4 linked regions of the Homo sapiens genome follow. The protein of the gene in region 1 interacts with the protein of each later gene in a biochemical or structural test. Each region holds a gene or a part of one and is shown in the gene's direction. Other genes may lie near its edges.

Evidence for each region.
Region 2: the proteins of LRRK1 (region 1) and CIMIP4 form a complex in vitro, tested with the Homo sapiens proteins (2 studies listed by BioGRID and IntAct, with this or other methods).
Region 3: the proteins of LRRK1 (region 1) and CHGB form a complex in vitro, tested with the Homo sapiens proteins (2 studies listed by BioGRID and IntAct, with this or other methods).
Region 4: the proteins of LRRK1 (region 1) and VGLL4 form a complex in vitro, tested with the Homo sapiens proteins (2 studies listed by BioGRID and IntAct, with this or other methods).

What each region holds. Positions count from the first base shown.
Region 1 is NC_000015.10:101,062,345-101,069,376, forward strand, and holds part of LRRK1 (leucine-rich repeat serine/threonine-protein kinase 1), read left to right. Parts: intron 1-229; coding exon 230-346; intron 347-1,057; exon of another isoform or gene 1,058-3,007; coding exon 3,008-3,861; intron 3,862-4,295; coding exon 4,296-4,397; intron 4,398-6,326; coding exon 6,327-6,504; 3' UTR 6,505-7,032.
Region 2 is NC_000022.11:37,004,823-37,012,013, reverse strand, and holds the start of CIMIP4 (ciliary microtubule inner protein 4), read left to right. Parts: upstream 1-4,162; 5' UTR 4,163-4,285; intron 4,286-4,357; exon of another isoform or gene 4,358-4,542; intron 4,543-7,191. Other genes in the region: TST (thiosulfate sulfurtransferase), read left to right, coding at 689-987.
Region 3 is NC_000020.11:5,921,498-5,925,873, forward strand, and holds the end of CHGB (secretogranin-1 precursor), read left to right. Parts: intron 1-837; coding exon 838-2,603; intron 2,604-3,474; coding exon 3,475-3,552; 3' UTR 3,553-3,856; downstream 3,857-4,376. UniProt on the Homo sapiens protein: Secretogranin-1 is a neuroendocrine secretory granule protein, which may be the precursor for other biologically active peptides.
Region 4 is NC_000003.12:11,556,894-11,563,925, reverse strand, and holds part of VGLL4 (transcription cofactor vestigial-like protein 4), read left to right. Parts: intron 1-4,470; coding exon 4,471-4,594; intron 4,595-5,058; coding exon of another isoform or gene 5,059-5,072; exon of another isoform or gene 5,073-5,098; coding exon 5,099-5,370; 3' UTR 5,371-7,032. UniProt on the Homo sapiens protein: May act as a specific coactivator for the mammalian TEFs.

The sequences.
Region 1 (7,032 bases):
GAATAGATGACGGGCTATTTTCTGTTTCCTCTTTAGACTAGTCTGTCTTTTTCAACGTTTCTACAAAGAGCAGAAATCCATAAACAACCCACCAGAACGTGTCAATCCATGTAACTTTCCAAGACCCATAGGGGATCCCCAAGTCCAAGTGCATCCTCATGGGAATGGCTTGGGAAATGCCAGACACTTTCCAGCCTGGGTCTCACAGTGGACCTGTCTGCCTCTGCAGGACCAGAAAATCTACATCTACACCCTCAAGGGCATGTGCCCCTTAAACACACCCCAACAGGCCTTGGATACTCCAGCTGTCGTCACCTGCTTCTTGGCCGTGCCTGTTATTAAAAAGGTGAGGTCGGGGCAAAGGCAGGTATGCAGGTCTCTGATGCACTTCCACGCCTAGGAGGCGTCTCCTAGCTATGTCAGGGTGGCGCCTGCAGAGCCACACCTAGGACCACCTGGCCTAGGACGTAGACTTAGAGACGGTGGGAGGAAAGATATCAGACCTGGTCCGTCATTAGTGCCTTCCGGTTTGCAAAAACCTAAGTCAAGTCCCCAGCCAGACTGCAGGCCGAATGAAAAACCCCCTTTCACATGCAAATGCCCTGACTCAGGTGGAAGGACTGTTGGTACAAATGGCACGGTGAGCAGTCATGCGTGTGCCCTTCCCCTATCCGGAGCCTCTTCCCCACCTGCCCAGGCCAGAGCCACCTCACAGCCACTTGATCACCAGGTCCTGGAGGTCCTGATCTCCCTCCCTCCATCTCTGCCTCCCGCCAAGTACTCGCCGTCTTACACCAGACGCAGTTTCTCTTTGTGCAGCATAGCCCTGCAGACTCAGCTCTTTAACCTCCTAGCCCTGGCCTTTCTAAATGAGACCCCAAGGGGCACTCTCCCCATTAAAGGCCCAGCCAGCTGTGCTGCACCTTGGGATTAGCCCCAGCCTCTATGAGGCTGGCCTCCAGTCCCTGCTGGGCCCGGCACCCTCCCCACAAAGCACCCCACTCTGTGCTGGGCCCTTGACATCCCAGCCTCCTCCAGGAACAGCCCCTCCACGCACCTCTTCCCAGACGGCCTCCGATTCAGTTCTCAAGACCCGGGGCCTTGTCCCCTCCTTTGAGAAGCTGCCCCTCAGTGGGGGGCAGCTCCCTGGCTTTTCCGGGCTCCTCCGCCCACAGGATTCAGGCACGGCTCAGCCAGCTCTGGTTTCATCCACCCTGAGGGGCCTGTCTGTGCATAGGCGCCCTCACTAAATGCACAAGAAGCCTTTACTGGTGTTGCTTTGTTAAAATGTGACTGTCATCATCCAATTCCAGTTTGCCCATCTACAAAACAGGTATAAGAAGAGACAGAAGGCCTAGCATACCCAAAGGTCTAGGCCGGTGTGCTTGGTAAATGAGTATTATTATTACTTCTGGATGGTCGCAAAATACATGAACTCTTCTCTTCACCCTTCTTCAGTTTCATTTAAAAAAAAAAAAAACAGGTATGAAATGAACCTTAGAGTCATTTATGACCATGGCCCCACAGCGAGGCTACGCAGCTTGGGACCAGGCCCGTACCAGAGCGCAGGAGAACACGACACAAAGTGTTATTGAGGCCACCGCTGGCGAGAGCCCCCAGCCAGGGCACCACCTCCTGCACGACCAGAGGGAATAAAGCCTGCTCTGTGCAGGGCCTCCTGGGCAGGGTGTCTGCCCCCTCCAAGGCCGCCAGCGCGAAGCCTGCATTCTTGCACGCGCACCCACGTTCACACCCAGCCGGGACGTGGCACTCACCGCCCTGGCCGGGGCCTGAGCCAGGACTGCAGATAGAGACCTGGAGCCTGTTTGCCTTGGCTGCCTTCTTTCCCTAAAGTCCTGGGGATGGATTTCGATACGCTTTCTTAGAGCATGTTGTCCTGGACAGTGAGCTACGGGTCTCCACTCCATTGCCCTGCACAGCCAGCCTCCTGAGCTCCCCCAGCTCCCCACAAGGAGGCTTTCTGCCCTGCCCCCTCACTGGCATGAGGCCCAGCTCCCTGCTCTGCCCTGACTCCAGCTTTGTTCTGCAGACCTCTTCCCACCCCCACCACAGCCGACGCGGTGTCTAGGCTGCGGAGCTGCACTCTGTTCCTGGCTCTGCCCTGGGAGGTGCCCCGGGGCGGTCTGGGGTGGGCCCAGCATTCAGCAAGGTCCCTGCAACTTTGGCCTCTGCCCGGTGACCTCTGGCGGGTGTAGAAGAGCTCATGCTTCATTGAGGGGGTGGGGGGCACCCTGAGGACCCTGTCAACGTCAGCTGAACCACAGGCATCTCGATAGATGTAAGCTGGGATGAGGGCTCAGCAGGCTGAGACAGGCCTCCAGAAGAGGGTTGAGTAGGAAGCGATTTCTTCCAGAATTAGTTCAGCAAACACATGTCATCCACTTGGAGCAGGAGCCAGGTGGAGTCACAGGGCCACCAAGATGAAGGAGACTGAGCCCTTCCCTGTGCCAGGCTAGTGCCACGGGGATGCTGGTGGGCTGGGAGCCCATCCTTATGGAACACTCTGCCTGGTGGGGGGGGTGGCAGGCAGGGGGCAGTGCACAGATGCTTGCCATGCCCCCACTGCTGTCATGTTAAGCAGCACCGAGAAAAGGGCGGGGGCACCAGGTCCTGCCTCTGAAGGAGGCCTTGGTGGCCTCAAGGAGAAGGCAGCTCCCTGCTGCTCGCCCTGCAAGAAGCTGGCAGAAGCAGAGGCAGCCCATGTGGTCCAGGTGACACGCAGCCTTACTTGGTGCCACAGGCCCTGCCTCTGGGTGGCACATTCCTTTCTTTGCTGCAGGGATGGTAGATATGGCTCTGCGGAGTCAGAGCTGCACTTCTTTAGGAGTAGCCCCGGCCTTTCTAAGAGATTTGCTGCCCTGAGGCGCACTGGTGGAAAGTGACTGCCCGCCTGGTGTGGGTGCAGATGAGTCCAGTGCCTACTCTGTGTCTCTCTTGGAATGTGTGAAATGGAAGGATGTGACACATCCCTGTCTCCTTCCTTCAGAATTCCTACCTGGTCTTAGCGGGCCTCGCCGATGGGCTTGTGGCTGTGTTTCCCGTGGTGCGGGGCACCCCAAAGGACAGCTGCTCCTACCTGTGCTCACACACAGCCAACAGGTCCAAGTTCAGCATCGCGGATGAAGACGCACGGCAGAACCCCTACCCAGTGAAGGCCATGGAGGTGGTCAACAGCGGCTCTGAGGTCTGGTACAGCAATGGGCCGGGCCTCCTTGTCATCGACTGTGCCTCCCTGGAGATCTGCAGGCGGCTGGAGCCCTACATGGCCCCCTCCATGGTTACGTCAGTCGTGTGCAGCTCTGAGGGCAGAGGGGAGGAGGTCGTCTGGTGCCTGGATGACAAGGCCAACTCCTTGGTGATGTACCACTCCACCACCTACCAGCTGTGTGCCCGGTACTTCTGCGGGGTCCCCAGCCCCCTCAGGGACATGTTTCCCGTGCGGCCCTTGGACACGGAACCCCCGGCAGCCAGCCACACGGCCAACCCAAAGGTGCCTGAGGGGGACTCCATCGCGGACGTGAGCATCATGTACAGTGAGGAGCTGGGCACGCAGATCCTGATCCACCAGGAATCACTCACTGACTACTGCTCCATGTCCTCCTACTCCTCATCCCCACCCCGCCAGGCTGCCAGGTCCCCCTCAAGCCTCCCCAGCTCCCCAGCAAGTTCTTCCAGTGTGCCTTTCTCCACCGACTGCGAGGACTCAGACATGCTACATACGCCCGGTGCTGCCTCCGACAGGTCTGAGCATGACCTGACCCCCATGGACGGGGAGACCTTCAGCCAGCACCTGCAGGCCGTGAAGATCCTCGCCGTCAGAGACCTCATTTGGGTCCCCAGGTACGTTTCCCGAGGTGAGGGCACCATCCAGGGCACGCCCACTGCTCCTGCTCTGGGGACAGAGCAAGGGGAAGCCCCCTGGCTTCCTTACAGGTCATGTGGGGAGGCAGGTGCTGTTCTTCCAAGAGGGTTGGTTTCCTCCATTGGGAATGGAAGCGATCGCTTTAGCAAATCTAAGAGTGGCCGCACAAAAGCTTATTGCCTGCCAGAGAGCTTAAGGTGCCACACAAGGAAAGCCACAGTCAACTGTGACTCAGTTTCCACTGAGAAAATTCTCCTCTGCTTTGAAGTCTGTCCCCTCCCCATAACTTAATCCCTTAGCAGAAACTGCATGTCTGTTGCCTCCCTCCCGCACCTTTCTGCACACCGGCTTCACTCCCCGGAGAGCACGGCTACCGACAAATCGCTTCCCCTTCTGGGTTTTGGTTGCTTAGGCGCGGTGGAGATGTTATCGTCATTGGCCTGGAGAAGGATTCTGGCGCCCAGCGGGGCCGAGTCATTGCCGTCTTAAAAGCCCGAGAGCTGACTCCGCATGGGTAAGACTGAGTGGCAGCTCCTTTAGGACCCAGGCAGCAGCATGAGCACAGAAGGCCCTGCAGCCAGGTCCTGCACAGTGGCTTTGCTGCCCTTCCATTCTCCCAAATAGCATAGCCACTAACGTGGCTGTAAGGCAAAGTGGAAACAAGATGGGGCCCCTCAGACAGCTCCTAGGGGCTCCGCACTGGCCATGGCTGCCTGTTTCTGGAGTACCCAGTGCACCTGTAGATCAAGTACCCTACCTAGTACCCTACCTAACGAATGTCTCCAGGGCCAGAGTTCAGCTGCAATCGACATGCAGATGCATCCAGGTCATTGATTCACTGTTCTTCCTGCCAAGCAGGAAACCCTACCCGAGGTGTCCACCAGCCCACACAGCACCCTATGGGGACAGATGACACAGGCACACCTTGTCATCTCCAAGCCTGGGGTCTCAGCTCCTGCCCTTCCTGGGCTGAGACATAGCTCAGTACCTGTCTGTGGGTGGGGACCCCCAGGATTATGCCAGTCTCCTCTGTGAAGGTATGCTGGGCAGGGTGGCCTGTCCGGGACATGGTCTACATGGTTGCAGTGATGTGAGGCTGGCGCCAGCTGCAGCTCCCCACAGTGTTTACACCCCGCACTTTGACTACCGAGCCCCACACGGTAAATCTCCCCTACGAAAAGTCCTCAGTTCAAATGTGTGTGTGTGTGTGTGTGTGTGTGTGTGTGTGTGTGTGTGTACTTTGGAGCTCTTCCATTTCACACTAGGCCTGTTTCCCTGCAGCATGAGTTATCCCCCATCCCTGGGCAAGTGGGTTTTTATTTCATCTGGAGCATAAGAGGGTGGAGAAACACCAGTCAGCTTGCTTCTCCCAAAGCAGGACAATGACAAGGACATCCTTGGCAGTCGCACTCCCTTGCCTGCCAGCTTTGAACTTTTGCAGTGAGTCCTGGGCCAGTGACCCTTACTCTGTAAGTGGTTCTGGAAGCAAGATCTGGATCTGCTCCTGAGCTCTGGCAGAGCCTGTGGGTAGAAGCCTTGAACTGATGGAGTTCCCAGCTTGCAGGTCGGGCTTCTGGAGGAAATGGGTGTGCAGCACCCAGGTTAGGACCTTGGCATACCTGCCATTAATGTCCTAACGTTTAGCTGTTGTTTTTCTCCTATTCATCCCTAAAGCCAGATTTTACCTCTTTCTCGCTAGAGGGAGGCTCCTCCCCTAAGGGGAGGTCCTGGCAAGGCCACGCGGAGTGAGAGGTCCCTGGACATCCCAGTTTGCAGGAGCACCTCAGTGCCACGCAGGCCGCACACACGGGACACAGAGGGAGGAAAGGCAATTAGTATGTGCTTGGGGTGGGGCACCACCAGGGCAGGGAGGCCACACTGTGGCCCAAAAGGAAACCTGTAGCACACACCCACCGATCCTGCAAAACTGTCCACAGTTTCAAAAAATGTATATAGTGATGACTTTGGGGCAGTAGGTTTTCCATTTAATATATGATCCTGTATTTCCTAAGCCTGTAGAAACAGAATGAGAGAAGAATCTTACTGAGCTTAGTGGCAAGGGAGTTGAGTTAAACTCGGTCATGAGCCATTCACAAGCAGAAATTTGGGTCAGTGGTGTTTTCTGGACGCTTTGGGAGCTGAGTCAAGGATGCATGATCTGATTGCCTCTGTGGCCTTCCAGGGAGTCTGACTCTTACAGACAAAGCCCATGGACGCGAACTCATGCCCACAGCCCGTCTTTGGACTTTATAAAGCCTAAGCCCACAGGCTGGCCACTGGGGAGAAGTGGTGCATCTCAGCACACCCCAGAGAGGGCTGGCAAGCAGACACACTCCCCTGCCCTTAGCCAGCTCCGCCTTCCTCAGAAGGCACAGGGGGAGGGTCCCAACCCCACCCGAGTGGGAACCCCTGTGAGTTTCCTCAGACCCCCTTCTCTCTGCAGGGTGCTGGTGGATGCTGCCGTGGTGGCAAAGGACACTGTTGTGTGCACCTTTGAAAATGAAAACACAGAGTGGTGCCTGGCCGTCTGGAGGGGCTGGGGCGCCAGGGAGTTCGACATTTTCTACCAGTCCTACGAGGAGCTGGGCCGGCTGGAGGCTTGCACTCGCAAGAGAAGGTAATTCCTGTGGAATGACTGTCACACATCAGAGCTGGCTGGCCCGGGGCTGCAGCCTGACCCCTCTGCCATCGGCCTCTAGTTCTCCAAGGACCTAGAAGACAGATGGAGTTCTCCCCTGAACTCCTTGCTGCTAAGAAGTGCTGAGAAGTTACTCGCCTGGCGGTGGCTCCAGGGTTCTCTGGTTCTCTGGAGCAGAGTTCTCTGAATACCCCATCCCCCAACTGCTGATTTTACAGCCCCAGGGAAGACAGTGGTATCAGGCTGGGAGCGGCCTCCTCTGGCCTCCCCCATCAGTTTGCAGGAGCAGGGGTGCAGGATCCTGTTCTGAGCTGGGTCAAACAAAGCAGGGCCGGGCCTTCCTGCCATCCCCAGGTCTCAGATGGAATTACACTAGAGGCCCTCCGCTGGGAAGCACTTGAGGTAGGGCAGGAGGGGGGCTGTGACCCCTGCCCTTTCCCCGCCAGAGACCTCAGGCTCTCAGCACATTCCACAGGCTCCTGAGTCCCCGAGGCCTGGGCCAGCTTGGGCA
Region 2 (7,191 bases), on another chromosome or scaffold:
GACCTCACATCTGACACCAGGTCACTTGCTCTTTCTGCAACTGTGTGCTTAACAGAAAACCAGAGGCCCCGATGTAATCCTGGGTCTGCCTTCATCTTTCTGTGTGGCCTTAGGTGAGCCGTGTTGTTTTGCCAAGACTCAGCGGATTCATCTGTAAAATGGGGACATATCTGATTAGTTATGTGGTTATCTGTTTAGCATCTGCCTTTCTTGTTAGACTGGAATCTCCCAGAGGGCCTGGCTGTGTCTCTGCCTTTCACCGCTGTGTTCTCAGCACATAGCATTTGCAATAAGTTGTCCCATTTGCTCTTCTCAACATGGCTGTGAGATAGGTATGTACCACTGAGCCCATTTTACAGATGAGAAAACTGAGGTTCAGAGAAGTGAAATGATTTGCCCAAGGTAAAGGTTAGTGGAGCTGAGACTCATGCCGCTGTCTTCTCAAGCAGGTGTGATTTTGGGCATCTCTACTTCAAGACAGGTGTTAGGAGAGGAGTTGCAGGCATCTTAAGTCATGAGAAATGATAATAGGTGGGGCTGGGAATAAATTGAGCTCCAAGCAGAGCAAAGATGTTATTTTTATTTGCAAAGCTATCTATCCTTCCAGCTATAGCTGATGGAATCCTCCAGGCCCCATTAGTCCCCACCCCTCATACATCCCCTAAGCTGTGTCCTCTGCCCTGCCCAGGACTGGACTCGGGCCATATCCGTGGTGCCGTCAACATGCCTTTCATGGACTTCCTGACTGAGGATGGCTTCGAGAAGGGCCCAGAAGAGCTCCGTGCTCTGTTCCAGACCAAGAAGGTGGATCTCTCGCAGCCTCTCATTGCCACGTGCCGCAAGGGAGTCACCGCCTGCCACGTGGCCTTGGCTGCCTACCTCTGCGGCAAGCCTGATGTGGCCGTGTACGATGGCTCCTGGTCCGAGTGGTTTCGCCGGGCCCCCCCAGAGAGCCGTGTGTCCCAGGGAAAGTCTGAGAAGGCCTGAGCCGTGACCTCTTCTGCTTACTGTAACTGCGGCCGGTTTAGTGACCCCATGACTTACAGCCGGTTCTTACCTCTTAGGTGAAGGAGATGACATGTTTTTAGAATTGCTGTGCAAGGCTCACCCTCTCTCTGTCAACACTGGAATAAACTTTGCCTTTTCTGAGTAGTGTGTTTGCCTGCCTCTCTCTGGGCTCCATCCTTGCCCCCAAACTTCCATCTCTTTCAAACTCCGGAGACTCCACCAAGGACAGAGACCACCATAGCCCCTCTGGCTGGGGAAGCCATACCGAGGACACCACTTTCACCCAGTTTTGGCAGAAACAGCCTCCTGCTGTCCCATGTCAGGTGGACTCTGTCCCAGAGCATGCTGGGTCCTACCAGGAAGACAGGTGGGAAGGGAACCAGAAAGCCAGAGAGCTGAAGCCCCAGCTGCTGTAGCCCCAGCCTCCTGGGTAGGGGCGGAGGGACAGCTGGCTTTCCCAATATGTCCATAGAGGTGTCACACAGACCCAGGGCCTCTCAGAAGAGGCCATGCTCAGGAGCAGGTGAAAGGAAGGTGGCCTCTGTCTCGAGCACCTTTTCTGGCTCAGAGTAAGACCCCCTGGGGAGCAGTGGAGGGAGGGGCTGGAGAAAGAGCTTTGGCCCTGGGAGAAGGTCCAGGCTCTGGCAGGTGAATCAGGAAGCCACAGTAGAAGAAAGCAACCTGATAGCTTGGCCCCATGTGGCTGGATTTCAAGTTTCCCAGAAACAGCCTCTCTTAGACCTCCTTTGGGGTTGCAAGAAGAATTCCGGGCCCCACCTACTGGGGACTACCGGCTCCCCACTATCCAGCCTTCCCAGTGAAGACAGGATCCTGGAGGGCCGGAGACCAAGTCTGTCCTTGGCTTGGCATTGGGGCAAATAGGTGCTCAGGAGATGCTGAGGAGGTTGGTTTTGGGGCTGGCAGGTTGGGTGATGGGGCTGAATGCTGAGGCCGGTGGGACCTGTAGTGGTGGGACTGGTAGTCTGGAGGGTTGACCCCTCTCACTTCCATGCCACTAACAAAACAGTCCTCTTCCCAGCTCACATGTGGCTCAGATCCTACTGTGGGAAGAAGAAGCAAATATACACAGTATGTCAGATGGCAATAAGGTGCAATGGTAGAAAAGGTTGGAAAATAGGAGTAGGGAGTGTGGGGTGGGCTGGGATGCTTTTTAAGAAAAGGTGGTCTGGGAAGGTGAGCAGAGTCTTGAAGGAGGTGAAGAGGCAAGCCATGTAGGCATGTGGGGGAAGGAAGTTGCAGGAGAGGAGAGGGAACAGCCCGTGCAAAGGCCCCGAGGAGGGACTGTGCTTGGTGTGCCCAAAAAACAGCAGAGCCTGGCATGGCAGGGACCCAGGGAGCACTTGGGAAAGTGAGAGGAGCAGAGGTCAGAGAAAAATGGTGGACAGGTTGGGTAGGGCCTTGCAGATAAATGGGAGGATGTCAGCTTTTACTGTGGTTGAGCTGGAAGGTTTTGTTTAGAGGGGTGACATATGATCTAATATAGGTCTTAACAGGATTGCTGGGCTGTTGAGTGAGAAGACTGTCAGAGGATATGGTGGACTCCAGGGTGGTCCCCATATTATCTGCCCCCTCGTGTTCATGCCCCGTGTGACCCTCTCCCTTTCACTGCGGGTGGGACCCGTGACTTGCTTTTAACCAACAGCCTACGGCAAAGGTGATGGATGCCACTTCTGTGACTATGGTACACAACATTGTAATGCCCCATCTTGCAAGGGGACTCCCTCTTTGCTGGCTTTGATGAAGTCAGTGTCATGTTGGTGTTGGGGGGCCCACATAGCAAGGAACTGAGGATGGCCTCTGGCTGACAGCCAGAGAGAGCCTGAGACCCTCAGTCTAACAGACTGCAAGGAACTGAATCCTCCCACAGCCACATGAGCTTGGAAGCATATTCTTCCCTAGTGGAACCTCAGATGAGACTGCAGCCCTGGCCAATACTTGGATTGTAGCCTGCTAAGACCCCAATGCAGAGAACTCAGCTAAGCCATGAGTAGACACCCGACCCAAAGAAACTGTGAGATAACAGTTGTATGTTAAGCTTCGAAGTTTATGGCAAGATTGTCGTGCAGCAATAGATAATACTTAGGCAAGAGATGAGGGTGGCTTGGACCAGGGAGTAGGGGGAGTTGTGGAGGTGGACGAAGGCATCCAAATCTAGTGTACTTCGAAGGACTTGCTGATGGGTTGCTTGCGGAAGTAGCTTAGAGTTTTGTGATGTCTCTCTCTGTGCAAGGCAATGTGCTACATTTTGCAAAAAATTGTTTTATTCGCCCATCACCCTTATCCTTAGTGTTGGGTGATATCTGTTTCACATGTGAAGGAAGTTCAGCTAAAGGACTTGGCCAGTCTCTTATCTAATAAGTGACAGGCCCAGATTCTGGGGACTCCAAGTTTAACCACAGCACTCTCTGTTTCCTGGGGAAATCCTGAAAGGCTGGGCTTGCAGGAGGCGTTCACTATACCCACTCTTTGTCCAGGCTGAGCAACAGCCAGACAGGAATGGGCCAGTGCTGGCACCAATGACTTCTGCCTCCTTCTTCTCTGCAGAAAAGAAGTCACTTAATTTTGTTGATCTCCTTCTGTAGCCCTTGTTGTTTAGGAATAGGAGAGAGGACCCTTCCTTTAGTTTTACTCCCAGGTCCCTGATCCCTGGGTGTCCAAATCAGACAGCTCCAGATGCATCTTTCTCCTTCCCCATTGACCTCGACCTACATTTATGCTGTTATACACATCCATGCCTTTAATATTCTCATCCCTTCAAAACTGTTAAGTTCCTAGGCATCCTTCAAGATCCAACTCAAATGGCTCTTTCATAAGTCCTTCCTCCTTTTTCCTACACAGAGCTAGTTCTTCTCCCTACTTAGTGCTTTGAGCTCCCAAGAACATCTTTTGCACTTGGTAGCATCTGAGCCCCCTGTGCCTGGCACACCTGGCATGTAGTGGGGGCTCAACTGACATTCTAGAGTGGATGAGAGAGTGAACAATAATTGAAGCCCCTCCTGCCTTTTCCTGGCCTCAATCCTGGCTTTCTCCTGGCCTCTTTTCCCTACGGGTGGGCCTATCAGCCCTCTGAGGTAACAGAGCCCTGTGTATAGTGATCACCATGGCAACTCCAATGAACATCTTGGGGAGGGCCACTTCCCAGCAACCATCCATTGGTCTTCACCAGTAGTTCTGCAGTGGGGATCTGCACTTCTGGGCTTCAGCACACATCAGTGTGGTTCACGTGTTTCCTGCTGTTATGAAAGAGATTGGAGAGGTGAGGCAGAGACTTATGAAGGGCCAGGGTTCTTCCAGGACATGGGGTTTCATCTTCCTTCTCCCCATTCAGAGTTGCTTGTGAGTGAAGACTGCCTAGACTGGACTTACCTTCCCGCCCTCTTTGACCAAAGTCTCTTGGGATCTCTCTCTCTGGGTCAGAAACTGGAAGTGAGTCCACACTTCCATTGTAGCCCGTCCAGACTGCTGTGGACTGGCAGTGCACTGGGACGTACAGAGCTGCCGTGGGCACGTCAGGTTGGTGGCTGGGGATAGGAGGAGAAAGAAAACTTGGAGCTAACTTGAACTTCACCTAGCTTGAAGATGTGCAATTTAATTTTAGCCCCACCTGGTGAAGTCCTGTGTCTTTTCGGAGCCTCATTTTCTCCATCTGTGAAAGAAGATAAATTAGTAGTGTCTCCGAACACCTTACTGGGTATTTGTGAAGACCAGACTAATTTACCAGATGTGAGAATGCTTGACATGGACTTGTGTTAGTTATCTCTTGCTGCACAACAAATCACCCCAAAACTTAGTGGGCTTAAGACAACATTTACTATCTCACAGTTTCTGTGAGTTGGGAATACCGGTGGAGTGTTGGTGATTTTTCTGTCCCAGGGTCTCTCACAGGCTGCAATCAAGGTGTTGCTTGGGTCTCTAGTCTCATCTCAAAGCTCGACCAGAGAAGGAACCCATTCACATGGCAGGATCCAGCTACTCTGGAGCTGTTGGCAAGAGGCCACTCTGAGTTCCTTGCCCTGTGGACCTCTCCATAGGGCATCTCACAACAGGGAAACTGGCTTCTGTCAGAGAAGATGAGCTGAGGAGAGCTGCAGAGAGTGTGTGAAAAAGACAGAAGTTGTAGTCTCTTATAAGTTCATCATGGATGCAACATCCCTCATTTTTGCCACATTCCATTCATCACTATGTCCAGTCCACACCAAAGGGGAGAGAATTATACCAAGAAACAGGGATCATTGGGAGCCATGTCAACTGCCTGCCACTCTCTGCCCTCTGGCCCCCAATAATGTACATCCCTTCCACATGCAAAATATAGTCATCCCCTCCTAAGATCTTTAAAATTCTCATCCTATTAAAGCATCAGTTTAAAAGCTAGAATCTGGTCATATAAATCAGCTCCAGGTGTGGCTGAGGCTCCTCCAGTGTCGTTCCTTAAGTACAGCTTCTCAGATTCAATTCTTCCCCATCATAGATCTGTGAAACTAAGTAATTTGCCCTGAACACACCTAACATACAGTGATGTGATAGGCATAGGATAAGAACTAGTGACATTCCTATTCAAAATTGAGGAAAATGGAGACATGGAGTCAATGTTCCATAGCGGTTTTGAAATCCAGCCACACAAATGTTGGACATTCCTTGATTAGGTTTCAAGGCCTGGGGATAATTCTCCATGGCTCTCAGCTCTGCCTTCTGGACTCTTGCATCCACTCTCTGACTTGTCTTTTTTATTTTTATTTTTTGTTCAATGGTATCTTTTCATTTTGTACTGTCTCTATCCCTTTTACCCGAAGTTGCCAACATTTTGCTGATGTTATTTTCTCAACAGTAAAACTTACAGGGGTTCACTCCATTGAACAAAAGTCACACCCCTTTTTAACTGAGGCTCCTGTTGAGGAGCCTTAAGCTTCCTAGAGGTCCTATGGTTCTGTTAAGAGGATATATCAGGCATCTCTTTAATCTCTTTAAAGCACCCTTTGTTTGACAGAGTAATACCCTCATCCTTTGATCTTTCTGAAGTTTTAACAACAGGTCGCACAGTCACACTCCTGGGCACACTTTCCAGACAGCCTTCTGAAGCTATTTCTTAATTTTAGCATCTTTTGGGATCTGGAAAGGATGAGACTTCAGAACCATTAAGTACTGGCATCTTTTTGTTTAACAGTCCCTTCTTCAATTCATCACCTTCCTCTCACATTTCACTACAAGCAGCAAGAAGAAAGTAAGAGGCAACTACCATCTTTTCTTTGGAACTCTTTAGCTAAATCATTCAGTTCATTAGTCACATAACTGCAGATGACAGTGTCACTGTTTCTGCCACTACATAACAAGGGTCTTTCTTCCACTATTTCTAGTAATATATTCCTCACTTCCATTTGGGCCCTCACTCACTGCATCTTCCAACTCCAGATTTCTGCTTAAAAAAAAAAAAAAACTGTTTAAGGTGATTTAGGCTTTTTCTATCATGCTTCTCAAAATCCTTATAGACTCTGACCACCGCTTGGTTCCAAGTTCAGTCCCAAATTTTTAAGTATTTGTTATAGCAACACCCCACTGTTAGTACCAAAATATGTATTAGCTATGTATTGCTGCGTAACAAATGACCATAAAGCTTAGAAGTTTGACACTGTATGTTTAAAACAGTACAAATTTATGATCTCAGAACTTATAGGAGTCAGGATGCTCACTTGGCTGGGTCCTCTGGCCCAGGGTATCCCACAGGCTGTAATGAAAGTGTCATCCAGGCTGTGTTCTCATATCAAGGCTCAACTGGGGAAGGATCCACTTTCAAGCTCATTCAGGTGTCAGGATTCATTCAGTTCTTCAAAGACTGTTGGACTCAGGGCTTCTATTCTTTATGAGCTTTTGGCCAGAAGTCACCCTCAGTTTCTTGCTCCATGGGCTGCTCCACAGGGCAGCTCAAAACACGGCATTTGCTGTCATCAGAATGAGCAAACCAAGGAGAACCAGGGAAAGAGAGCAAACAAAACCGAAGTCACAGGCCGGGCACGGTGGCTCACACCTGTAATCCCAGCACTTTGGGAGGCTGAGGCGGGTGGATCACTTGAGGCCAGGAGTTAGAGATCAGCCTGGCCAACATGGTGAAACCCTGTCTCTACTAAAAATACAAAAATTAGCCAGATGTGGTGGTGCACACCTGTAATC
Region 3 (4,376 bases), on another chromosome or scaffold:
TAAAGGAGCTATTGATATTTGGAAAAGATGGACGAGAACAGCATTCAATTAAAATATCAGTTATACCATGTACTCTGACTCTGGAAACACAAAGATAACTCACTGTGCTGAAGTCTGTCCCCAACATCTGAGAACATGTTGGGTGGATGGAACCTGAGTGAAGAAAGAAATGGCCCTTTCCACTGATGTGCAGTTTTCTCAGGCAAGAAATGTACACCCTTATCACCAGCTACTAAGTTATATATCACATACTGCTAGGTTGAGCCTACAGTTGATTGGATAATAAAAGTCTGATATAAACTAATAATTTCAAATGTTTAAATCCTCCTTTGAATCTTGATATTTCTTATTTTGGCTAGTTAACTATCTAGCTGGATTATTGTTAGAGCCATTCACATAGTGCTAACTTTTTAACTCCTACTTGAAGAAAATATGGAAAGAATGGTCTTGGATTATACCATGCTGAGTCTCAATGTCTGCAAAAAGAAGAGGTTGGACTGGATTAGATGAATTCTAAGATGTTTCCTGCCTCTAAATTCTAATATTTCATAAATCTATATCTCGATTTCAGTTTGATCATTGGTAGTACCAATGAGAGAAGCTGGCTGGGCATTATGAAGACATAAAAATATAGACAGTTTATTACCAGATTTAAACACAGTCAAGGAGCTTTCATAGCATTTACTTTCAAAAGGAATCTGAGTATATTCTTCATTAACTTAAATAATTATCCAAGCAATTTTCAGTGTCATCAGGATTTGTAGTGATTACTGAGGCTGGTGCTTGTGGAACCACAAGCAATTCTGAAATTATACCTACTCTTCATTTTCATTATAGGTAGAAAAGACGTCAAAGACAAAGAGACAACTGAAAATGAAAACACAAAGTTTGAAGTAAGATTGTTAAGAGACCCAGCTGATGCCTCGGAAGCCCACGAGTCCTCCAGCAGGGGAGAGGCAGGAGCCCCAGGGGAGGAGGACATCCAAGGCCCAACAAAGGCAGACACAGAGAAATGGGCAGAGGGAGGCGGGCACAGCCGAGAGCGAGCGGATGAGCCCCAGTGGAGCCTCTATCCCTCCGACAGCCAAGTCTCTGAAGAAGTGAAGACACGCCATTCTGAGAAGAGCCAGAGAGAGGATGAGGAGGAGGAGGAGGGAGAGAACTATCAAAAAGGGGAGCGAGGGGAAGATAGCAGTGAAGAGAAACACCTTGAAGAGCCAGGAGAGACACAAAACGCTTTTCTCAATGAAAGAAAGCAGGCTTCAGCTATAAAAAAAGAGGAGTTAGTGGCCAGATCGGAAACACATGCTGCCGGGCATTCTCAGGAGAAGACACATAGCCGAGAGAAGAGTAGCCAGGAGAGTGGAGAGGAGACAGGGAGCCAGGAGAATCACCCCCAGGAGTCTAAAGGCCAACCCCGAAGCCAGGAAGAATCTGAGGAAGGTGAGGAAGATGCCACCTCTGAGGTGGACAAACGACGCACGAGGCCCAGACACCACCACGGGAGGAGCAGGCCCGACAGGTCCTCTCAAGGAGGGAGTCTTCCCTCTGAGGAAAAGGGACACCCCCAGGAGGAATCTGAGGAGTCAAACGTCAGCATGGCCAGTTTAGGGGAAAAGAGGGACCACCATTCAACCCACTACAGGGCTTCAGAGGAAGAACCTGAATATGGAGAAGAAATAAAGGGTTATCCAGGCGTCCAGGCCCCTGAGGACCTGGAGTGGGAGCGCTATAGGGGCAGAGGAAGTGAAGAATACAGGGCTCCAAGACCTCAGAGTGAGGAGAGTTGGGATGAGGAGGACAAGAGAAACTACCCCAGCTTAGAGCTTGATAAGATGGCACATGGATATGGTGAAGAAAGTGAGGAAGAGAGGGGCCTTGAGCCGGGAAAGGGACGCCATCACAGAGGCAGGGGAGGGGAGCCACGTGCCTATTTCATGTCTGACACCAGAGAAGAGAAAAGGTTCTTGGGTGAAGGACACCACCGTGTCCAAGAAAACCAGATGGACAAGGCAAGGAGGCATCCACAAGGTGCGTGGAAAGAGCTGGACAGAAATTATCTCAACTACGGTGAGGAAGGAGCCCCAGGGAAGTGGCAGCAGCAGGGAGACCTGCAGGACACTAAAGAAAACAGGGAGGAAGCTAGGTTTCAAGATAAACAATATAGCTCCCATCACACAGCTGAAAAGAGGAAGAGATTAGGGGAACTGTTCAACCCATACTACGACCCTCTCCAGTGGAAGAGCAGCCATTTTGAAAGAAGAGACAACATGAATGACAATTTTCTCGAGGGTGAGGAGGAAAATGAGCTGACCTTGAACGAGAAGAATTTCTTCCCAGAATACAACTATGACTGGTGGGAGAAAAAGCCCTTCTCTGAGGATGTGAACTGGGGGTATGAGAAGAGAAACCTCGCCAGGGTCCCCAAGCTGGACCTGAAAAGGCAATATGACAGGGTGGCCCAACTGGACCAGCTCCTTCACTACAGGAAGAAGTCAGCTGAGTTTCCAGACTTCTATGATTCTGAGGAGCCGGTGAGCACCCACCAGGAGGCAGAAAATGAAAAGGACAGGGCTGACCAGACAGTCCTGACAGAGGACGAGGTATGGTCTAGGGCTTCTGTTTAAAAGTACTTACTCTGGTCAATGTTAGCACATTATGTTCAAGACTATCCGATATTCACGGGGAGAAATTGGTGGGAATTAATCACTATGAAAATGGTGCTCTAGTAATGGAGTGGAGGCCACCTTGGGGGTCGGTTTCCACCTACCTCTAGCCATCGTCCACATCCTTGTCCACCTCACTCGGTTGCATTGCTTCTCAACCTTGTCTGCACACTGGGGTCACCTGGAGAGCGTGAAAAATTACTGTGTTAGAGATTCTGTCTACTTAGTTCCTAGGGTGCTGCCTGATCATCAGAATATTTTAAAGCTTCCAGATGATTGCAGCGTTCAGCCAACGTTAACAACTGCTGTTCTGGTATCTTCCCCTTGGTCCTCTTATTGTTCATCACTCTCTCCCTGAGGCAGGGAGAATAGGTGATAGAGAAGTTTACTTGCTTGCCTATTTAGTTTGCTATCTTTATTATTTCATGCCCTACTGCCATCAGAAATTTGTATCTGGGAGAGGTAACACTACTGGAGCTGAACCTACCCAAACAATGTTTTTTTTCCTAATATTGATTATGTAGGTTGGTGCTTCTCAAAGTTGAATGTACATTAGGATCATGAGGGATTCCTAGCCCCCAGAGTTCCTCATTTAGTAGGTCCCAAGTGAGACCCCAATATCTGCATTTCTGACAAGTTCCTGGCTGATGCCACTGGTCAGGGGACCACACTTTGAGAGTTACTGAGGTAGGTTGACTAATGCAGCTTCTAACATGCCTAAAATTCCCCTTTGCACTCATGCTCCATCAAACTACAGCAAAAGAAATTGGTTCGGGACCTCATGCCTCCACTTTTCTGTATTTTCCAGAAAAAAGAACTCGAAAACTTGGCTGCAATGGATTTGGAACTACAGAAGATAGCTGAGAAATTCAGCCAAAGGGGCTGACTGTCATTGGAGCGGTGGGCACTGTTAAGAAGCAGCCATCACATGATCTGTTTTTCACCACTTCACTGAAAGACACCATTTATCTACCCAAGGGCAGAAAGTAGAACTTACTATTCATTAAATGTTTGACACAATTGGAATTGTCTTTAATTTCTGTCAGAATGCTATTGAAAATGTGAATTGCATGACTTGTAGCATATTCTTTTCTGCAAAATAGACATATTAACATGCTTATGACAATGACTGTGCTACTGTCTTTGGAAAAATGTTTGTCTCAGTTGGAAATAATAAAAGATTCACCTGAGACCAAAAGCTTCATTGTTCTCAGCTTCTTTTGGGCAAAGAGAGAGGTGTGTGACTTTTCAAATCTATTCTTTGAAGTAAATTGCAAAAGATGGCCCTAGGATTTGTTGGGTTTTGGATGCATAATAGAATAAAAAAGCAAACCTTTTGAAGTAATGTGCAGGATATAAAGAGAAATAGATTAGAAAAAGACATCTACTCCCCCATGCTGAGAGAGATTACAGGGGCTTGAAGAACCTGTTTCAAAAACAATCATAAGATATTACTTTAAAAATTCCTTTATCTAAAGAGCTCTACAAGTAGCCAGCCAAAGTTCATTTTTCAGGGCTGAGAAGAAAGCTTGGATAATGGGAAGAATTCCGGGGTGGGAGTGAAAACATCTGGATTGTCAAGACAGATCCCTGGCCCCTCAGATCTTGTCTGATTTCTACTCCTTAAGAAGATAGAGGCAGCTGGGTGCGGTGGCTTACAGTTGTAATCCTAGCACTTTGGGAGGCCCAGGCAGACAGATCACGAGGTCA
Region 4 (7,032 bases), on another chromosome or scaffold:
GTGTCTGATGGGGTCTGTTGAAACTGTGGGTGGGGTAGGCCCTGGGAGTTGGGAGAGGTGGTTCTGGTGCTTGGGAATCCTGGTGAAGCTGAGAACAGTTGCCCATCTTGCCTCAGAGCCTGACATGGTAATCCTGTTTGTTTGATTCATCCATTTAACAAAATGGCACAGACCCCTGCTGTGTGCCAGGGGGTACCAGAAGCCAGTCAAGCAAGATGCAGTTTTTGTTCTCAGCACGCTCAGTTTTAGTCTGGAGGAGAGATCGCTGATGTGTCTGATGGAACCCGAGGCCAAGTTATCACTGCTGTTCATTTCAACGTTTTACGAGCGCTCACCATTTACCCAGCCCTCTGCAGAGCAGAGCTGTGGGCAGCCAGAGACGTGTGTGTGGACACTGTCACGGCCACAGGGAGCTCCCAGTCTAATTGGGGAAATGGACATGAGAAGAGAGGATTGTGCTGTTGGGCAGCAGCAGGGGCTGGAACAGAGGCGTGTGCGCAGTGCGACCCACAGGGACCCGCTCACTGCTCCCCGGGGTGGGCAGTGGACCTTTCTGCTTTGGGAAGCTCAACAGGCATTGTAATGCTGCCATGAGCCATGGCCTGAACCGTGCAGGCAGAACCTGGCTCTCTGGCCATTGCCACTGCTGTTGGGGAGTCCCTGAAGGACACGGGTATGGAGGGGAGGATTCAGCTGTAATCTCGGAGCACCCACATCCAGCCTCTGGCCCTTGATGACCTGGGGGACATAACTGTGAGCCTTACAAGCTATCTCTGCCCACATGGTCAGGGTGGGCCCTTGGCGGGCTTAGTGTGTTCTTGGATGATTTATTTCCTTGACTCTTCAGGGCTCTTGAGAATCTTGCAGTTGGTTTTCGGTCACAGTTGCTTTGCAAAAACTGAACTGCTGAACAGAGTGGCCTGACTCTCTTTACCCTGTCTCCCTCTCCCCAGCCTGGAATGGGCCTGGCTGCCCACGGCACACGTGGCAAGGGCCCCTCCTTGTGCCTTGGGGCTCCTGAGCAGCTTTCCTAGGAGGAAGAACCTCGACCCCCCAGCTATATCTTTATGGGATCCTGGCCTGGACTGAGGACAAAGCCAGGGGCCACGGGGTACCCCAAGCTGCCCATTTTCCTGGGAAGGGCACAGTGGCCCTGACCGGAGCTGTCATTTTCGGCTGGGGTTGGTCAGTCCTGCCCTCCTTGCCGTGGCTGCTGTCAGCACATGTCATTCATGTCGTAACCATTCGTGGGGCTCCTTCCTGCGGCAGCGTGGCGGGGCTGAGGCCATGCACACCAATCCGAGCTGGGCTCGGGCGCCCTGCTGAGGACACCAAGCAGCCACGTTGCCTGTGCTCCAGCAGCTCCGAGGTCTCTTCCTGGAAGTCTGTTGGGTGTCATCCTGCAGCTCAGAGCCAGGGAAATGGCAGTGGGGAGGGGGCTTCCTGGGGTGACAGCAAAGCTCTGTGTCCACAGGCAGGCAGGACGCATGCTGCAGCCCTGTGGGGTGGGCACGGTGGAAGCCTTCCTCTGTGTGGCAGAAAATGTGTCTCAGATCTCTGGGAACTGGGACAGGAAAGTTCCCAGAGGGGCATGTATGGGGAGGCTACAGAAAGTGTCCCCCCATTTCATGTTTGTGATAGCAGCTCAGGACAGACAAACACCAAGAGGGTGGCCTTGGGCAGCAGCCAGTGAGGAGAGGCAAGATGGGGTTAAGCTTCGCACATTGAGGGCTGGGCACAGTGGCTCACACCTGTAATCCCAGCCCTTTGGGGGGTTGAGGCGGCGGATCACTTGAGGCCAGGATTTCGAGACCAGCCTGGCCAACATGGTGAAACCCTGTTTTTACTAAAAGTACAAAAATTAGCCAGGCGTGGTGGTGGGTGCCTGTAATCCCAGCTACTCGGGAGGCTGACAGGAGAATCGCTTGAACCCGGAAGGCGGAGCTTGCAATGAGCCAAGATCGCGTCACTGCACTCCAGCCTGGACGACAGAGTGAGACTTTGTCTTTAAAAAAAAAAAAAAAAAAAAAAAAAGTTTGGCGCAGCCAGCCTTGGGGGTTGCTTTCAGATAGGAGAGGTGGTGGGAGCCCTCTCCCCCGGGGCAGCCTCTGTCTGAGGACAGTCACAGGTGGGTGGGACAGCGGGTGAAGGGGTTAGTGACAGGGCTCATACTGGCCCTGCCACAAATCCGCAGCGTAACTTCCAACAGGGTGTTTCTGGCCTTCATTTTCCCCATCTGGAAAATAAGGGTGTGGGGGAGGGGAGCCTCGGGATCCCATAAACGCTCACCATCTGGAGGCCTGGGGCCCGTTCTAGGTGGACGAGTCCCAGCCTGCACTCAACCACAGAGGCAGGGGCAAGATGCCTGACTCCAGCTGGGGAGGAGGGGTGGTGGAGCCAGTCCCACGAGGGCTCACGGGCCACCCTGCAGCCTGGGTTGTGGGGAGGAGGAGAGGATGCCCAGACACTGAACATCTTCACATCTGCAGGTGACCGGTTAAGGCAATTCGCCCCAGCTCAGGTCAGGAGATGCCCTGAAGGTGGTCTGATACCAGTCAGCCAGCCTGCCCTGCTGGTCCCTTGTTAGAGAGTCTCTTCTGAAGTGGCCTTTCCTGCCTTGGATAGACTGACATAAAGGCTGGACAGTGAGCTCATTTCTTCATCTTCCTTGATTCCCCCTCCCTGTGCTCGAAATGTCTCCCCAGTTCCCCACATTTGCGTGGGTCAGGACACGCTCGCTGCAAAGAACAAGCCGGCTGAGCACAAAAGGGAGTTTTATTGGGAGGACCCTGGGGGGGGGTCTCCTAGAGCCCAAGGTCATGGGTGCAGCCAGGCTCAGGAAGGGCCTGGCCATCTCTGAGAGCTGGACAGGGGCAGGGCCCTCCTTCCTCCTGGCTCTGTGCGTGTCCAGGTCTCGGTATTCTGCTCTCTTGCTGCTGCTTGACCCCTGTGGTCAGCCAGTGTGAGATCTGCTCCAGGCCTCATCTGTCGGTCCCCAACCCCCTTTCCGAGCCTGTCTGCTCAGCATTGTGAAGTCTCTCACCCGAGGCCCTGTCCACAGGCAGAACGTGGACATTCAGCCCAGCTCCACCTGCCCGGGTTCTCTCTGCGCTGCCACCTGTGCACACCATGGAGGCCGTACGAACCCTGGGCAGCTCTGTCCCGCTGCTAAGTGTCGGGCCACTAAGAAACCCTGAATTCTTGGTTGGTCTGCTGTTGCTAAGCCACATCCCCCCCTACCCTGGCATGTGTCGCTTCTTGTTAGACCCAAGCACAGGTCCTTGTGTTCAATCCCAGTTCATCCTTGTGGATCCACATTTTCATCCTAGAATCCACTTTCACCATTCCCAATCACTGTCGTCTATCATGAGAAGGTCTGGCATGCAAGCCTTTTGTGTCTTTATACCAGCTACTGCTCTAACTTTAATGGAAAGGGCTGGCTGGGGAGGATAAGGCCCAGCGTCCCTCTGGCTGACACTGCTGTCACCATTGGTCCCTGTGGGGTGATTTCAACCAGCTCCTTGCTGGCTGTCCTGGAACTTAGCCCACATACTCCACCACCTTGTCCTCGGGGGTATTGGAAGATACTTTTCCTGGGGGAACCTGAGGAAGTTCTGTTTAGTTCACAAATATTTTCTGTCCCAGGTTCCACACCAAAGCTGGGGGGCCAGACATACTGCCTGGTGTGCATGGTCTTACGGGAGCACCTGGACAGACCGATGCACTTGCTGAATCTTGGTGGGTTAGGGGAGCAGGAGTGAAAAGCGGTGGTGGTGGGGCGGTGGCCAGTGAAAGGCTTCAGAGAGAGATCTGAACAGGGCTTGAAGGAACAAGGGGAGTTTGCCAGGCAGACAGCGTGGGGGTGGGGGTGAAGGAGAGAGTGAGGCTGTGCACAGGGCAGATCGGGCTGGGGTGGGATGTGTGCCGTTCCACACTTAGGCATATTTCCTCCATTTCCTCTCTGTCCCGATTTGTAGGTCATCACTGAGGCCAACTCGAGCTGGCTTTGGCTCAAGCAAAATGCTTCCAGTTAATTGCCGTGTATTGAAGTGTCCTGGATGGCTCCAGGCACACCCGCGGCTCAGTGGACATGATGGGAAGGGCTCTGGGGACGTTAACGGGAGAATCGAGGTCCCTCCTGCAACCCTCTGTCCTCCACAGGATGCCCGGTGTTTGTCTTAACAGATTTGAGAGATGGGGACAGACCAACTCAACAGTTGAGCTTTTGTCCTTTGTACCCTCACTGATCCAAACAGCCACGACCAAGGGCCACTACACACACCCTTGGAGCTGCGCTCACTCTGTGGATTGGCTGTGTTTAGCAACAGGACTCCAGTATTGAAGTGGGAGGTGGCAGACTGGGTCAGGAAGGGCACCAGGACAGAGCCTGAAGGGTGCTGGGGAGGGCCCCAGGGGTGGTGCCCGGTACTGAAGCTGGTCTCCACATACTGACACCCCTCCTCCCCGCAGAACCGGCCCTCCGTGATCACCTGTGCCTCGGCTGGCGCCCGCAACTGCAACCTCTCGCACTGCCCCATCGCGCACAGCGGCTGTGCCGCGCCCGGGCCTGCCAGCTACCGGAGGCCACCGAGCGGTGAGTGTCCCGGGCCTCCTCACCTGTCACAGCTGTGCTAGTGGCAGCAGAGCCCTTCTCTGTCATGCTGTTGGCTGAAACCTCTCGCCCCTGAGCCCATCTATTGCTGAGGTTGAAAAAGTATTTCTTGAGCACGTCCAGTGTGCGCCTAGCGTTGCGCATGACTTGGGTGGGAAGGGCATGAGAAACACACCGCCTCGCTCAGTTCCAGGGTCTCATGCCCTAGTTGCAGGGAGGGCAGCGGCTACTGTTATTTAAATTTAATGCCACATTCTCTTTCTGAACTCGGACTCTGGCCCAGTGCAGTTGGTACATCACCATTTTACAGAAAAGTGACCTGCCCAAGTGCCTGACTTAGCCGGGGGAGGTGGGTTCTGTCTGCAGAGCCCACGCTGACCGTGGCAGCCAGTCCGGCTCTGGGCTGCCTGAGGGAGGGTGCTGCAACCGTGCCTGTCTGTCTGCAGCCACCTGTGTCTGACTGCCTGCCTTCCTGCTTGCCTGCAGCTGCCACCACCTGTGACCCCGTGGTGGAGGAGCATTTCCGCAGGAGCCTGGGCAAGAATTACAAGGAGCCCGAGCCGGCACCCAACTCCGTGTCCATCACGGGCTCCGTGGACGACCACTTTGCCAAAGCTCTGGGTGACACGTGGCTCCAGATCAAAGCGGCCAAGGACGGAGCATCCAGCAGCCCTGAGTCCGCCTCTCGCAGGGGCCAGCCCGCCAGCCCCTCTGCCCACATGGTCAGCCACAGTCACTCCCCCTCTGTGGTCTCCTGAAGGGAGCGCCTCCTCCAACAACACGTGGATCTGCATGGTTTGCCTGAGCTTTGAACAGTCAGTACTTAAAAAAAAAAAAATCATGGGGGTGGGGTGGGGGGAAGGGAAGGGATGGTTTATTTGCAAAAACCATGTTGTTGGGATTTGTGTTCTGTTTTTGTACTTGCTTGGTATCCGTACAAGGGGGCCCTCAAACATGATAGCAGGAACTACGCGTGGAACATCTGTCTAATGTAGCATCCTTACTTCCTGCCTCAGTTACCAAAGAAACCTCTGATGCAGGTCTGCTGCCCCGACGGGGCCAGGACTCCACAGCGCTTTCTCAGTCACAAGCCATGATGAATTGGTGACTCAGACGCTTTGTGCTTTTTCCTTTGCTTCTTGAGACCGGGGTGTGTGTGGCTCAGCTTCCACGGCGTGTTTGGTTCGGTCCATGTGTGTGCGTGTGTATACTTGAAGAGAACTGTCGTGTCTGATTTGCACTATTGGAGGAGGACTAAAGTTGCCTGACAACTTTATGTGTTATGCCAGAACTCTGAGGGCAAACTGCTGAAAAACAAAGGGTTTAAGGATGACATTTCTGACCATTTGTGTGTTTGTTGTTGTTACTGTTTTTGTTTTTTTTAATGTAGACAATACAGCTTTGGAAGGGGAAGTCTCATACAGGTTATAGGTCTTTCTCTCTCTAGATTTCAGGTGCTTGCAACTGGACTGCAGACTCTACCAATCACGGGCATTTTATCTTCTCTGAACACTGCAGTTTGTTAGACTAGAGCTGAGGTTGGAGGATTCCATAGTGCTTTAAACGTGATGCATGTTTTAATGGAGAAAAAATAGCTGGTTTCTATTAATTATATAGACAGTAAACAAAAACCTTAATACTTACTATCTTCTTTTCAGAATTAGTTTATTTTTGTCAGTTACAGTCCTAGATATACTTACTGCTGGTACAGTTGTACTCTAAGATTGGTATTTGATATTCACTTTACTCACAAGTAGTGCGGGAGGCCAGCTCCTGGCAGGCCCTCGCGATGAGCAGTGGGTCAGCTGCGGTGTGGGATGCTGGAGTTTGGCTGCAGGCTGACATCATTTATTTTTGCATCCCTGTCTGCTTTGTTACAAGCTCCCAGGGGAGGTGGGGTTTGTGTCTTCCAACTTCCCTACATGCAGAAACTGCTCCCTTTGAACTCTCTTGGCTGAACAGCAGATTACTGACAGACAATCTGTGATATGGTGTTTTATACGCTTCCTCGTACGCTGGGGCCAAGGCAGTATACATTCCTCTGACTTTATACTGTTATTACTGCATTTATTATTTGCTATATTAATAGCTACTAACTAGAAATTAGATGAAGCAAGCATGACAGACACAGCTGTGGAGGTCACAGCTGCTCCTTTTTGGTCAATGAGCGTTTCTATCCCCTCCCCCTGGGGTGTGCTGTGTCCCACCTGGCCCACCAGAGGCTCACGACGATGGCACCTGACCAGGTGACGTGGGCGTGGTCACCTCACCTGCAAGGCTTTGTGGACTCTGCACACCGTATGACCCCCGGTTTTACAGTTTTTAGCTGTTGAATTTTGGAAATTGGCACTGGGTGAAAAGGTCGGAGGACTGGCTCTTGTAGTCACAGAGTGGCTGCAGGCCTTTGAAAAGTGGAGGAA